Linked DNA regions of Homo sapiens. The protein of the gene in region 1 purifies or fractionates together with the protein of each later gene. This does not show direct contact. Each region holds a gene or a part of one and is shown in the gene's direction. Other genes may lie near its edges.

Region 1 (3,500 bases):
CTATTATTTAGTTAAGCAGTTAGAATATTTCTGAGATTTTTCCTGTCTCACTTTCAGGTATTATTTGTACTTTGTCAGCCCTTCAAAACTGAGTACAAATGTGTTCTCTTTACTACCTTAAAAATATTGTTGGTCTGTATCCACCAAAACCTAATTGGTGTGTTGTGTGCTTCTATCTTATGAAAAGAAACATTTTTCTCTTGTAGGATAAGACCTCTCTCCGATGGCAACAGTCCTTGGTCAACTATCTTAATAAAAAATCAGAAAACCATGCCCTTGGCTTCATTGTTTGTGGACCAGCCAGGTAAATGTGTTTCAGGAGGTAGGATTTGCTTGAGCAGTCCTTGGCATCTGATTGTGCTGAAGCTTTGCTTTTACAGTCTTACGTGGTCATTAAAGTAGCAGAGGGGAGATTAGCAAGTAATGGCATTTCTTATAGCTTTACTTAAATTCAGAAGTTATTTTCCGTCAAGTATTTATGGCAGGAAGTAATTAGGCTTCACGTGGTTTTGGGAATTTGTAACTCTTCTTCCTTACCAGAAACATTATTATCACAATTAATTATGTAAAACCAAATCAATTTAGTATGGGAAATATTAGATGTAAAAATATAGACCCCCCTGAAAGTTCTGCTGAGATTAAGGGGTATGGCTTCTTGCTATAGTGCCACCTGTTGACATGAGGAAATCCAATGAAACAGGTTAACTATGAAAAACACAAAAACTAGCCGGCATGGTGGTGCTTGCTTGTAATCCCAGCTACTCAGGAGGCTGAGGCAAGAGAATCACTTGCACCTGGGAGCCAGAGGTGGCAGTGAGCCAAGATTGTGCCACTGCATGCCAGCCTGGACAATAGAGTGAATGAGACTCTATCTCTAGATAAATAAATAAATAAATAAATAAGAAAAATGACTCCTTGGAGAGTTTTACACTGGAATTTCTATTTAATTTAAATGAATCATAATGATTTACTTTCAATATTCTATATTTGTATTCAGTATTCAGTATTAAAAGATTGAAGAGATGGAAATCGTTGAAAAACTTCAAGCACGGTTACTAACACAGAAAATAAAATTGGTCTTTATACTTGACCATTTAGGCAGACTCTTTGGTACTTTGATCAAATTAAAGATGCCTTAGCAAGACACAATGTAAATGTATTGAATTTGTTATTGGTACTGTGCTCAATTTCACAAGCACCTTTGCACTCACTACCTGGGTTCAGCTTCTCCTTCTGAAGGTTCTCCTTTATGAAGGAAAAGGGAGCTTGGGTCAGCAACGTCAGGGAGTGGAAGGAAAAAGAGGGTACCCCAAACAAAAGGCACCACAGGGAAGAGCACAGGGTTCTTTGGAGAAAGAAAGCTGGCACCCCAAATTGTCTACATCAGCAGTCCCCAACCTTTATGGCACCAGAGACCAGTTTCATGGAAGACAGTTTTTCCATGGACCAGTGGGGTAGGGATGGTTTCAGGATGATCCAAGCGCATTACATTTGTTGTGCACTTTATTATTATTACATTGTAATTCATAATGAAATAATTCTACAACTCACCATAATGTAGAATCAGTGGGAGCCCTGAGCTTGTTTTCCTACAACTAGATGGTCCCATCTGGGAGTGATGGGAGACAGCAACAGATCATCAGATCCTAGATTCTCATAAGGAGCAACCTAGATCCCTTGTATGTGCAGTTCACAATGGGGTTCATGCTCCTATGAGAATCTAATGCTTCTGCTGAACTGACACAGGGCGGAGCTCAGGTGGTAATGTGAGCAATGGGCACTGGCTGTAAATGCAAAAGAAGCTTCACTCGCCCACCTGCTGCTCACTTCCTGCTGTGCAGCCTGGTTCCTAACAGGCCACGGTATCAGTCCATGGCCTGGGGTTCAGGGACCCCTGGTCTAGATCATCAAGCATGTTTAGGTATACTAGGATGTAGTGTTGGAAAAAATTAGAGATGTTATTTGGAAATCAGATTAATGAGTTTGTTGTTTAATTATGCGCTGTCACTTTTGTGATAAGAATGTTAGCTTCCTCTTAAGCGGGTATAATTTGTAACCTTTGGGATTCTGTAACCTCTTGGGAGAATCTTCTATTTTAATGGTCCCCAAACTTCAGTAAAGGCTAGCTGAAACACAGACTGCTGGACTCCACTCTTCAGAATTTCTGATTCCATAGTCTGGGGTGGGCCAATAATTTACATTTCTACAAATTCCCAGGGGATGCAGATGCTGCCAGTCCAGGCCACACACTTTGAGAACTGCTGATCTGCTACAGAACAGTTAGTTTATACACAGGAAAGCTGTAGATAATGGAGCCTGATGCATGTATTTAGGTGAAGTGAGGAAAAGAGCACATTTGGTGACATATTTAGTGATTTTGTGCCTATGGTTGTGCGTTTTTGTGTTTTGATGACTGTTTCTACAATAGTGTCTATTATTGAAGCTGATGAAGAACAGCTTCCCGAAGCATAGGAAACAGCAGATGGCTAGCTTGCTGGTTCATCTGCAGGGAACCTGAAGTTGTAGGGCCCTAGACTCTTGCTCCATGGAGCCCTCCTGGATGAATCATTTGCAGAAATGAAAAGGGCTGCATGTGTTTTGATTTAAAATATGTATTTATTATATTTTAGCTTTATTTTACAATCTTGTTTAAATGACTTTTGCTGTAAAATGATACTACAGTGTATGTACTTATACCTTTATTTAGGGTCCTGTGAAGAGCCAAAACTTTCCCCTGATGGATTAGAACACAGAAAACCAAAACAAATAAAATTGCCTAGTCAGGCCTACATTGATCTACCTCTTGGGAAAGATGCTCAGAGAGAGAATCCTGCAGAAGCTGAAAGCTGGGAGGAGGCAGCCTCTGCGAATGCTGCCACAGTCTCCATTGAGATGACTCCTACGAATAGTCTGAGTAGATCCCCCCAGAGAAAGAAAACGGAGTCAGCTCTGTATGGGTGCACCGTCCTTCTGGCATCGGTGGCTCTGGGACTGGACCTCAGAGAGCTTCATAAAGCACAGGCTGCTGAAGAACCGTTGCCCAAGGAAGAGAAGAAGAAACGAGAGGGAATCTTCCAGCGGGCTTCCAAGTCCCGCAGAAGCGCCAGTCCTCCCACAAGCCTGCCATCCACCTGTGGGGAGGCCAGCAGCCCACCCTCCCTGCCACTGTCAAGTGCCCTGGGCATCCTCTCCACACCTTCTTTCTCCACAAAGTGCCTGCTGCAGATGGACAGTGAAGATCCACTGGTGGACAGTGCACCTGTCACTTGTGACTCTGAGATGCTCACTCCGGATTTTTGTCCCACTGCCCCAGGAAGTGGTCGTGAGCCAGCCCTCATGCCAAGACTTGACACTGATTGTAGTGTATCAAGAAACTTGCCGTCTTCCTTCCTACAGCAGACATGTGGGAATGTACCTTACTGTGCTTCTTCAAAACATAGACCGTCACATCACAGACGGACCATGTCTGATGGAAATCCGACCCCAAGTAGGTTGCATTA
Region 2 (2,626 bases), on another chromosome or scaffold:
AAGAAATACTGCCCTTAAATAGACTGTTGAAATATTAATGGCCCCCCCATTTAATCAGTGTGTCTGCGGCTTTCTTCGCGTCACATGTCCGCATTGGCAGGTGATTCTGGAAAGGGATTCTGGGAAACCAACAAGTCTTTTTTAAATCTTTGAGTTGTATGAGAAAGTATTTAAGTTCACCAGTGTAGTAAACACCCACCCCAGAGCAGCGGTAAGCAAACCTAAATCTGAAAACCCATTCTTACTGTCTTTCACCATGAGATGCTGGTTTTGGTGTAAAATGACAGCACTTGGTTTGGGGTTTTGCACCTGTTGGGTAGAACTGTTCTTGTCTGAGGTCCTCACCCTCTACAGATGGGCCTCAGGGCCTGGAGGTGGGCAGATGGGGCCAGAGTGGCCAGCAGAGACTTGCATGGGCTCTGAAAGCCCCAGAGCTCAGGCCTAAGGCTGCTAGGTGAGACCAGCAGGCAGCTGTGGCATCCGACCTTGGGACGCCCAAGCTGGGCAGCCGCTCCATGTGCCCCAAACAGGATATCCTCATGAATGTGAGGAGAGGCTGGCTCAGGGCTTGGTTTTCATTTTGGCCTGGCACAGGGTACCTGTAGGGAGCACTCCCCCAACCTGAGGATGGTGAAACCATATGATAGAGACTCCTTGTCGAAGTCCACATCGGACTGATCTAGAATGCCCCGTGGGGGGATTGCATGGCCTTTGCCTTGAGATGCAGGTGAAAGAAAGGAACCAAACAAGGCATGAGTGTGTTGGGGAATCTTCCCAGTGGAGCAAACCCCCTTAACACACCAGCTGTTGGGAACAGCTGCCCCTAAATCCAATTAAACCCTCATCTCCCTGGTGCTGAACAGTCTACACTGGCCCAGGAAGCTAACGTCTGAGCCGCTTGGAGAGCTTTGGTAAACAGAAGACACTGGAAGCCCACTCGGTCAGCAGCTGGGCATGAGGATGTCAGGGGCCTTTGGACTTGAGGAAGGACAGTCCAGGTGCATGGAATCCTAATGGGCCTCATGCAGACACTGGAAGCAGCCCAGCCCCCTGCCCAATACCACAGCCCTGGGGTGTCCCCTGACATTCCTGGAGGTCCCTGGGCAAATGCATTTCCTGCCTGGGTTCTCAGGGTAGGAGAACAGAGAAGGCTCCAAGGGTGTTGGGAGTGAGCCAGGGGCTGGTCTGGGGAGTGGGTCTCACGCACTGCTCAGGTTGGCACGAGGGACCTCCCCCATCCCAACCCAGCCCCAAGGGTCCCAGCAGGGCTCTCAGCATGGCTGTTTTGAGGGTACACAGGTGGCTGGAGAGGGGTGGGGCAGTTGCATGGTGGGTGGCAAAGTGTGCATTTAGAAGCTGCTTCGTGGCGTTAAGAACGGGGGGAGAGGGACCAGCACTGTAACGTTAGAAATAATTCCTTCTTGCAGACTTGAAAAGCATCAGTTTCCCTCCCACGGCTGGGTTTTTGTGTCTGAAATACATCTAATTCTCCAGACTGCAGCCCCTCTCAGCCCCGAGCACCTGAGCGCTGGGGAGGCCCTTATTGAGCTCAGCCTGGAGAGGGGAGGGTCGCACGGGTCCCGGGGGCAGGTCTCCTGCACTGGCTCTTCCCTTCTGCCAGCTTGGAATTTGGTTCTCATCTTGCCACAGGGGTGCGTTTCCTAAAGGGCAGCCGGAGCAGCTCAAAGGTGACAACTGAGATGCATTTCTAGGCAGGGGCAGGGAAGGCCAACCCACCTTGCAGCCAGTTTTCTGTTTCTGTAAATAGCAGTGTATAGAGATGGAAGGGCAGCGTGGGTGTATCCACAGATGGGTTTAGGTTTTTTTTTTGGATGTTTTCTATTACCTCATTCAGCAACTTTATGTTTCACAATGACTCAATGATGCTTTATTTATATTGTTTGTACTGTAATTAAAACCATTGACAGACATTTCACTTTGCTTGTTATTTCATATGATCTTGTTTTGATTAAATATGCCAGTTTGTATTTTCCTGCCTTGGGATTTTTTTGTGTCCGCTGTACAGTATTCTAAGGGAAAAAGAAAAAGAAAGATGTGTAAAGTAACAGAGAGAGGTGGCTATGGTGTAGAGACCTCTTTCTAATAAAGAAATGAAAATATGTCTACACCGCTTCCGTGGAGTTGTTGTTTTTTGTTTTTTGTTTTTTTTTTTTTTGGTGGCGTTGGTCATTTGTCACAACTAATTGTGTTTCTAAGCCCAGGAAAGGTAAATCAGAGAGAAAAGGGGCTCTGTCTGCTGCGGGCAGGGATTGCCCCAGGCCCAGGCTGCCCCAGGCCCGAGGGACTCAGCACACGAGTTCACAGACGGAATGAAGAAAGAGACCAGGAGTGTCTCTTCTGACTTCTTCCTTTACAAGGACAGAAACTCCAAGAGAATGTTCTTTGCCCAGCCAGGGTTGACTGGGCCCAGAACTTCCAGATGCTTCTGTATCTTTGCACTGTGCCACACTGCCCCAGGTGTGTCGTAAGAACTATTCCCAGCAGGTGGCTAGCAGTAGAACCATCCCAGGACTCTATTATTAAGACCGTTATTATCATTAATATTACTGTAATTTTTGCCTACAAACTACATTATATCTTCCCCTCCAAAAAAAAAAAATGAGAA
Region 3 (3,500 bases), on another chromosome or scaffold:
GCAGGTCTGGGGGTGGCGGAGCTGGGAGGCCATGTCCCCCAGCCGGCCGTGCTTCCTCCTCTGCAGGCGGGAGTGGGAGACTCGTCTGCAGGAGACGCTGGGCCCGCACTATGTGCTGCTGTCCTCGGCGGCCCACGGCGTGCTCTACATGTCGCTCTTCATCCGCAGGGACCTCATCTGGTTCTGCTCAGGTGGGCGCGGCTGGAGGGGTGGGCGCGGCTGGAAGGTGGCAGCGTCCCACAGGTGAGCTGAGGGCTGCCCCTCCCACAGAGGTGGAGTGCTCCACGGTGACCACACGCATCGTGTCTCAGATCAAGACCAAGGGGGCCTTGGGCATCAGCTTCACCTTTTTTGGCACTTCCTTCCTCTTCATCACGTCCCACTTCACCTGTAAGTTGCTTGGTGCCCGCACCGCAGGTGCTGTGTGAGAACAGCTTCCTCTCCTGACCGGGACCCTGTCCAAGGCAGGGGTCCTGACCGCTGGCTTCATCTTCCACCCAGGGCCGTGGGGTGGGCACCACGCTTGCTAAGATGCACGCCAAGGACCCCCGGCAGACCCCGGCACCGAGGGCGTGCCGTGCTGGGCCCGTGCTCTGTCCTCCGAGGCGGAAATGTCACTGGCTGGGCCCGGCAGCGGATGCCCGGTGGGGTTGCGTCTGCCGGGGGTGCGCAGTCAGGGCACAGTCCAGAGGTGCGGCGCTTTAGGGAGACTCGAGCATCCGGAACCCTGTGGTCCCTACCCCATTTCTGTTCCCACAGCAGGTGACGGGAAGGTGGCGGAGCGGCTGCTGGACTACACCAGGACTGTACAAGCCCTGGTCCTGCCCAGAAATGTGCCCGACACCAACCCCTATCGCTCCAGCGCAGGTGAGGGCGTCCACGCTGCGTGTGGGTGGTGCCGCCGTGGTTCGCACACGGGCGCCCGTCGTTTTTAGGGCAGTTCTGAAGAGGCAGCGTCCTGAGCTTTGGGAAGCGAGGGCCGAAACGTCCAGTGCCCCCAGCGCATGGCCCCTCGCGGTTCTTTAGCACGGTTAGTGGGGTGGGCGGATCCTGTCCACTCGGCGTGGCCCACTAGCCTGGGTCCTGGTCCTCGCCACTGCCCGCCCCGCCGCCTCCCCTGGCTGTGTGGAGAGGAGCAGGGACGTGGCCATCGCCTGCCATGGGCATCGTCTGCTCCTGAGGCTGCTCCAGGTGCCTTCTGGAACTGTCCCAGTGCGAATCCCACCCCTGAGGGCCCGGCCCCACCGGCTGGCGCCCAAGACCCACTTCCCCTGAGAGCCACTCCCAGGCCATGTTCTGGGGAAGGGGAAGGACCTGCCGTCCCTCTGCCTGTGCCCACACATGGCCCACTGTGCCGCAGCGGACGTCACCACCCGCTTCGATGAGGTGTTCTGGTTTGGAGACTTCAACTTCCGCCTGAGTGGCGGGCGCACAGTCGTGGACGCCCTCCTGTGCCAGGGCCTGGTGGTGGACGTGCCGGCGCTGCTGCAGCACGACCAGCTCATCCGGGAGATGCGGAAAGGTGAGGGCCTGGGGGGGCGGGCATGGAGGGAGATGAGGAGAGGTGAGGGCCTGGGGGGGCGGGCGTGGAGGGAGATGAGGAGAGGTGAGGGCCTGGGGGGCGGGCGTGGAGGGAGATGAGGAAAGGTGAGGGCCTGGGGGGCGGGCGTGGAGGGAGATGAGGAGAGGTGAGGGCCTGGGGGGGCGGGCGTGGAGGGAGATGAGGAGAGGTGAGGGCCTGGGGGGGCGGGCGTGGAGGGAGATGAGGAAAGGTGAGGGCCTGGGGGGGCGGGCGTGGCGGGAGATGAGGAAAGGTGAGGGCCTGGGGGGGCGGGCGTGGAGGGAGATGAGGAAAGGTGAGGGCCTGGGGGGCGGGCGTGGAGGGAGATGAGGAGAGGTGAGGGCCTGGGGGGGCGGGCGTGGAGGGAGATGAGGAGAGGTGAGGGCCTGGGGGGGCGGGCGTGGAGGGAGATGAGGAGAGGTGAGGGCCTGGGGGGCGGGCGTGGAGGGAGATGAGGAGAGGTGAGGGCCTGGGGGGCGGGCGTGGAGGGAGATGAGGAGAGGTGAGGGCCTGGGGGGGCGGGCGTGGCGGGAGATGAGGAAAGGTGAGGGCCTGCGGCGGGTGGGGGGAGGGTGGGCGTGGTGGGAGATGAGGAGAGGTGAGGGCCTGGGGTGCGGCGGCTGGCACAAGCTGGTCTGAGCCAGTCCGAGTGCCCATCCTGTGGCAGGGTCCATCTTCAAGGGCTTCCAGGAGCCGGACATCCACTTCCTCCCATCATACAAGTTTGACATCGGGAAGGACACGTACGACAGCACCTCCAAGCAGAGGACGCCCTCATACACGGTGAGGCCTGCCCACCGCTGCGGTGCAGAGTGCTTCCAGGGCAGGCATCTCCCACAGCCGGGAACCGATGCCTGGCGTCAGGGGTCTGAGCCTGGACGGCCTGGACTTGAAACTCAGCTCTGCACCTTGGCCTTGTGGCAAGTCCCCTTTGGTGGAGAACGGCGCCCTCTCCATGGGTGTTTTCAAGGCTGGGTGAGCCGGCTGGCACACAGGGCACCAGCCATGCCCTCGCCTCCGGCCTGCAGAGCCTCTGCCCTCTGCCCGTTGCACCCTCGCTCACCCTCCTGCCAGGCCCATGGCTGCATCTCTGGGCATGTCCCGATATCTGGATATCTGCTGGAAGCCTCAAGAAGCCACTGAGGCAGGGCAGGGTAGGAGCAGCCGCTGTCCACAGGGTCTCTCCAGCGGCGAGGGACAGGCCCTGGCCCAGCTGGCCACAGACGCCAGGCAACAAAATGGGCATGAGTGTCAGGGGTCCCAGAAGGCTTCCTTGTGGGGGGCGCTTGAGAACAGCAGGGAGGTGAGCGGGCCACGCCCCACGGCTCCTCACAAGTAACTGGACCTCCTGCCTCTGCAATCTTCCCAAAGGACCGCGTCTTGTACAGAAGCCGCCACAAGGGTGACATCTGTCCTGTGAGCTACTCTTCCTGCCCCGGGATCAAGACGTCCGACCACCGCCCTGTGTATGGCCTCTTCCGGGTGAAAGTGAGGCCGGGGCGAGACAAGTCAGTGTTCTCCCGCTCACCTTCCCCCTTGGGCCTGGGGGTCGTGCCGTCGTCCCATGAGCTAAGAGGGTCCCTGTCATCGTGGGGTTCCACTTGGGGCTTTGTTCTGGGACCTTCAGGGCTGTGTTCCCCGGGATCGGTTGGACTCATCCTGGAGCAGGAGAAGGCAGGAAGGGGAGAGGCTCTGGAAAGTGAAGAGAGGCCCAGCTGGGGGGCTGGGTGTGGCCAGCTGGAGGGACGAAGGCCTTAAGCACTCAGGCATCCGCCCTGTCCTTCCTGCGGCTCTGTCCCAGGAACAGGCCTCCGTGTGCTTAGAGGCAGGGCCAATCTGGGCCAGTGCCCACCTAACAGCCCCTCATCCTGGCCCTGGGTGTCCTCTTAAATGCCCCCTCCTCCGGGGCCGGCCCCCTCCTAACGCCCCCTCCTCCTGG
Region 4 (3,500 bases), about 55 Mb from region 1:
AGTGTAGTCTAACATGTTTCAGGGAAATCTACAAATTGGGAACCTAGTCTAGAGGATACAACTAGAAGCTTAGAGTATTGGTTTCATTCTGGCTTTGCCACAAGTTGGTTGTCTAATTCTGGGCAGGTAGTTTTAACTCATGGCCTCTAGGTTTCAGCATAAAAGTGGAATCTGGAGTAATTGGTATCTGTGGTCCCTTTTAGCTTTAAAGTTGTCTGATTCTGTGGCTTGGCCCATTATTTTACCTGCAGGTTGGCCTATAATCTTTATCCTGGCTCTTGGGGCCAGGCATTAACCAAGCCCTTAACTTAATGCATTTAAATCATGATTGTCAGGGAATTCTGGGGAGCAGTTTTATCAAAAGGTCAGTGAACTGAGTTTTCAAAGAAGATATATTGAAGGCAGATGTTTATTTATTTGGAATGTTTTCACAAGATAGGAAGATGAGTATGGCGATGTTGCTTAGGTCTAGTTCATCCAGTTTTGAGACCTAACCTACATAGCCATGTGGGTTCTAAAGGTAGGATAATAATAAGGAACTTTATTAAGTGCAATTTGCATCTCCTGCAATATACTTCTGTTTGAAATCATGATGGGAACAAACAACAACAGAAGTAACCCCCCAAAGAATATCTTAACAGGAACTTCTAGAAACAATATTTTATTAGTTTGCCTCACAAAATTTGAAGACTAGGCACTGTTTTGAGTTTCTTGTTGACAGGTTTGGCTCCTTGGTTGATAATACATATATATTGTGTACATATGTATATATTGTCATAATACGTATACTCAGGGTTTTGTGTATTGCCATGATTTGGAAAACTTTTCTGGAATATGTTCAGAGCTTTATAATAGGTGGCTCTATATTTAGAACACAAACTAATGCACATTTTTGAGATGTGGCTGAGAGAAAAATATTTGTGCTGTCTGTCCTAATCTTCATTTCCTTGTAGTTGTAAAATGTTTCATTTGTTTTATTCCAGTATTATAAGTTGTGCCCATGCCTTGTCAAGACTATAAAATTTTTGATATCAGGGAGCCTTGTTTATCTTTGTATTCTTATCTTGCCACCCCCTTCATTGTCAACTTGTCTGCCAGATTGGTACCTTGCTCATAGTAAGTCAGTGTCTGTTGTATGTTGATCCGTTTGTCCTTTGACCATCCAGATCTCAACCTGACTGACTGTATGGGTGGTAGAGTAGCTTAAACAAAGGCATGCCACAAACAGCTAAATATGGATACAGAATCCAAGAGCATCAAATGCAGAACATTTTTCAGATATTTATAGCCTCAAAGCAAAGTCAATTGGCTGAAAAAGCTCAGCAGCATAGCGAAAGGAAACGGGAGTGGCAAAGCCAGCCTCACTGTCTGTGCTTTCTGGTAAACAATGAGAACATTAAAATTAAATACTTTACCATGAATGGATGGGGAGTGTAGGACACTCTGGGAGAAATTTAAGATCCCAATCTCTAGGATTGCCTGCGGTGGAGCTCTGCACTCATCAGTATGACAGGTCTGCAAGTATGTGCTCAGATATGCTCTTGGAGAGTTAGAAGGGAAATATAATCAGCACAAGAAAGGGATCAACAAGAAATCTTGTACTTTTAAATTTTAATATTATCAGAAGGAATTAGGTAAAATATTCTGTTAAGAAAATGAATAGCATCAACATTATTACCATTAAGCTTGTATACAGCTCATTGTTTATTGATAACAACATAGGGACCTGCTGGAAAATTTCAAAGGGCTAGTACTATTTAAGCAAACAGAAGAAAAAGGGAATTAATCATACTTCATTAAGTACCTTATAATTCCAGAAATGTGGCAGTGGGAATTCGGTAAGAATTAATAGAAGTTCATATTCAAGAAGTGAATATGAGCTGATGAGACAGAAGTCATATCTGGTTGTATTATATGATACTGCTTACGCCTCACCAATTAAGACACAGGATGAGATTTTTAAAAGTTACGTTTCTAGAGGTTATGTCTCTAAATTTATTTAAAATGTTGCAACTAGTATGGCTAGAAGAAAATCAGTGAGTGTGTATAAAATACATCCCCAAACATGTTCATGTTCCTTAAATGTCTTAATTTCCTCAGGTACTGTTAATTGAATCTTTACACCTGAGTAGTCATATTTTAGAAATTTTTGGAATCTTAAGCTTGAGTTCAATACTTAGGATGTGGCATAGGCTTGTTGATGTATTAGTTTCCAATGATTTCCAAATACATTAAAACACATTAAGAATAGACAGTTTTTCATTGAAATCAGAGAGAACTTCTAAGAATGCCTAGGCATGTACTGTTTAAGTGACTTTAAATAGCCCCCTTTTTTCTTCTTTTGAGAGAAAATTTGTATGTCTTATTTAAATTGTGTGCTCTATTAATGTAGGTGATAGTTTCATTTATAACATCTTAGTATTGTTCTACCCTCTATCATGTTGGTTCACTGCTATTTGATTTTCAAACAGTGAAAATATTTTTAAGGAATAGAATTATACATCCACAATCTCTTTTCCAAAACCATTTGGACTAGACAGTTATGTTAATATTTCTGCAGTTAAACAAGTGAATAGGCCGGGCGTGGTGGCTCACGCCTGTAATCCCAGCACTTTGGGAGGCCGAGGCAGGTGGATCACTTGAGGTCAGGAGTTCAAGACCAGCCTGGCCAACATGGTGAAACCCCGTTTCTACTAAAGTACAAAGAAATTAGCCGGGTGTGGTGGCATGCACCTGTAATCCCAGCTACTTGGGAGGCTGAGGCAGGAGAATCGCTTGAACCAGGGAGGGGGAGATTGCAGTGAGCTGTGATTCCACCGTTGCACTGCAGCCTGGGTGACAGAGTGAGACTATCTCAAAAAAAAAACAAAATCATACCAAGTGGTATAAAGACTATAAATAGCCTTATGTCAGTGCAGGTCAGACTTTACTGCCAGAAAAGTTGCATACAGTCTTTTGCTTTTCAGAGCTTTTTTGATTTAGGAATTGCAGATATGGAATTGAGGATCTGTACAAATCTTCAGACATAAATAATACAAAGTTCTAGAACACCCCTCTTTAAGAATAGTTTGTGTGGATATCCTTTATCTTTTTCAGATAATAACATTTACTGAACACATTTTTAAAAATGGGCCGGGCGCGGTGGCTTATGCCCATAATTCCAGCACTTTAGGAGGCCAAGGTGGGCGGATCACCTGAGGTAAGGAGTTTGAGACCAGCCTGGCCAACATGGTGAAACCTTGTCTCTACTATAAATACAAAAAAAAAAAAAAATTAGCAGGGCATGGTGGCACATCTGTAATCCCAGCTACTCGGGATGCTGAGGCACGAGAATCGCTTGAGCCCAGGAGGGAGAGGTTGCAGCTAGCTGAGATCGTGCCACTGCACTCCAGCCTGGGCAACAGAGCGAGACTCAGTCTCAAATAAAAAAAAAAAAAAAAAGTTGTACAGTTGTGTTTCCTACTATAGTGAGTGAAATTTCTGTGGTTTGCTAAGAAAAA

Evidence for each region. The genes of interacting proteins can lie anywhere in the genome.
Region 2: the proteins of MAP3K21 (region 1) and AGAP1 purify together in Homo sapiens (affinity purification with mass spectrometry, with the first as the bait; one large-scale study listed by BioGRID). This does not show direct contact.
Region 3: the proteins of MAP3K21 (region 1) and INPP5E purify together in Homo sapiens (affinity purification with mass spectrometry, with the first as the bait; one large-scale study listed by BioGRID). This does not show direct contact.
Region 4: the proteins of MAP3K21 (region 1) and RASAL2 purify together in Homo sapiens (affinity purification with mass spectrometry, with the first as the bait; one large-scale study listed by BioGRID). This does not show direct contact.

The regions. Positions count from the first base shown.
Region 1 is NC_000001.11:233,376,224-233,379,723, forward strand, and holds part of MAP3K21 (mitogen-activated protein kinase kinase kinase 21), read left to right. Parts: intron 1-206; coding exon 207-304; intron 305-2,707; coding exon 2,708-3,487; intron 3,488-3,500. UniProt on the Homo sapiens protein: Negative regulator of TLR4 signaling. Does not activate JNK1/MAPK8 pathway, p38/MAPK14, nor ERK2/MAPK1 pathways.
Region 2 is NC_000002.12:236,129,668-236,132,293, forward strand, and holds the end of AGAP1 (arf-GAP with GTPase, ANK repeat and PH domain-containing protein 1), read left to right. Parts: 3' UTR 1-2,126; downstream 2,127-2,626. UniProt on the Homo sapiens protein: GTPase-activating protein for ARF1 and, to a lesser extent, ARF5. Directly and specifically regulates the adapter protein 3 (AP-3)-dependent trafficking of proteins in the endosomal-lysosomal system.
Region 3 is NC_000009.12:136,429,846-136,433,345, reverse strand, and holds part of INPP5E (phosphatidylinositol polyphosphate 5-phosphatase type IV), read left to right. Parts: intron 1-66; coding exon 67-191; intron 192-270; coding exon 271-390; intron 391-759; coding exon 760-867; exon of another isoform or gene 868-1,030; intron 1,031-1,360; coding exon 1,361-1,522; intron 1,523-2,228; coding exon 2,229-2,344; intron 2,345-2,932; coding exon 2,933-3,069; intron 3,070-3,500. UniProt on the Homo sapiens protein: Phosphatidylinositol (PtdIns) phosphatase that specifically hydrolyzes the 5-phosphate of phosphatidylinositol-3,4,5-trisphosphate (PtdIns(3,4,5)P3), phosphatidylinositol 4,5-bisphosphate (PtdIns(4,5)P2) and phosphatidylinositol 3,5-bisphosphate (PtdIns(3,5)P2).
Region 4 is NC_000001.11:178,097,104-178,100,603, forward strand, and holds part of RASAL2 (ras GTPase-activating protein nGAP), read left to right. Parts: intron 1-3,500. UniProt on the Homo sapiens protein: Inhibitory regulator of the Ras-cyclic AMP pathway.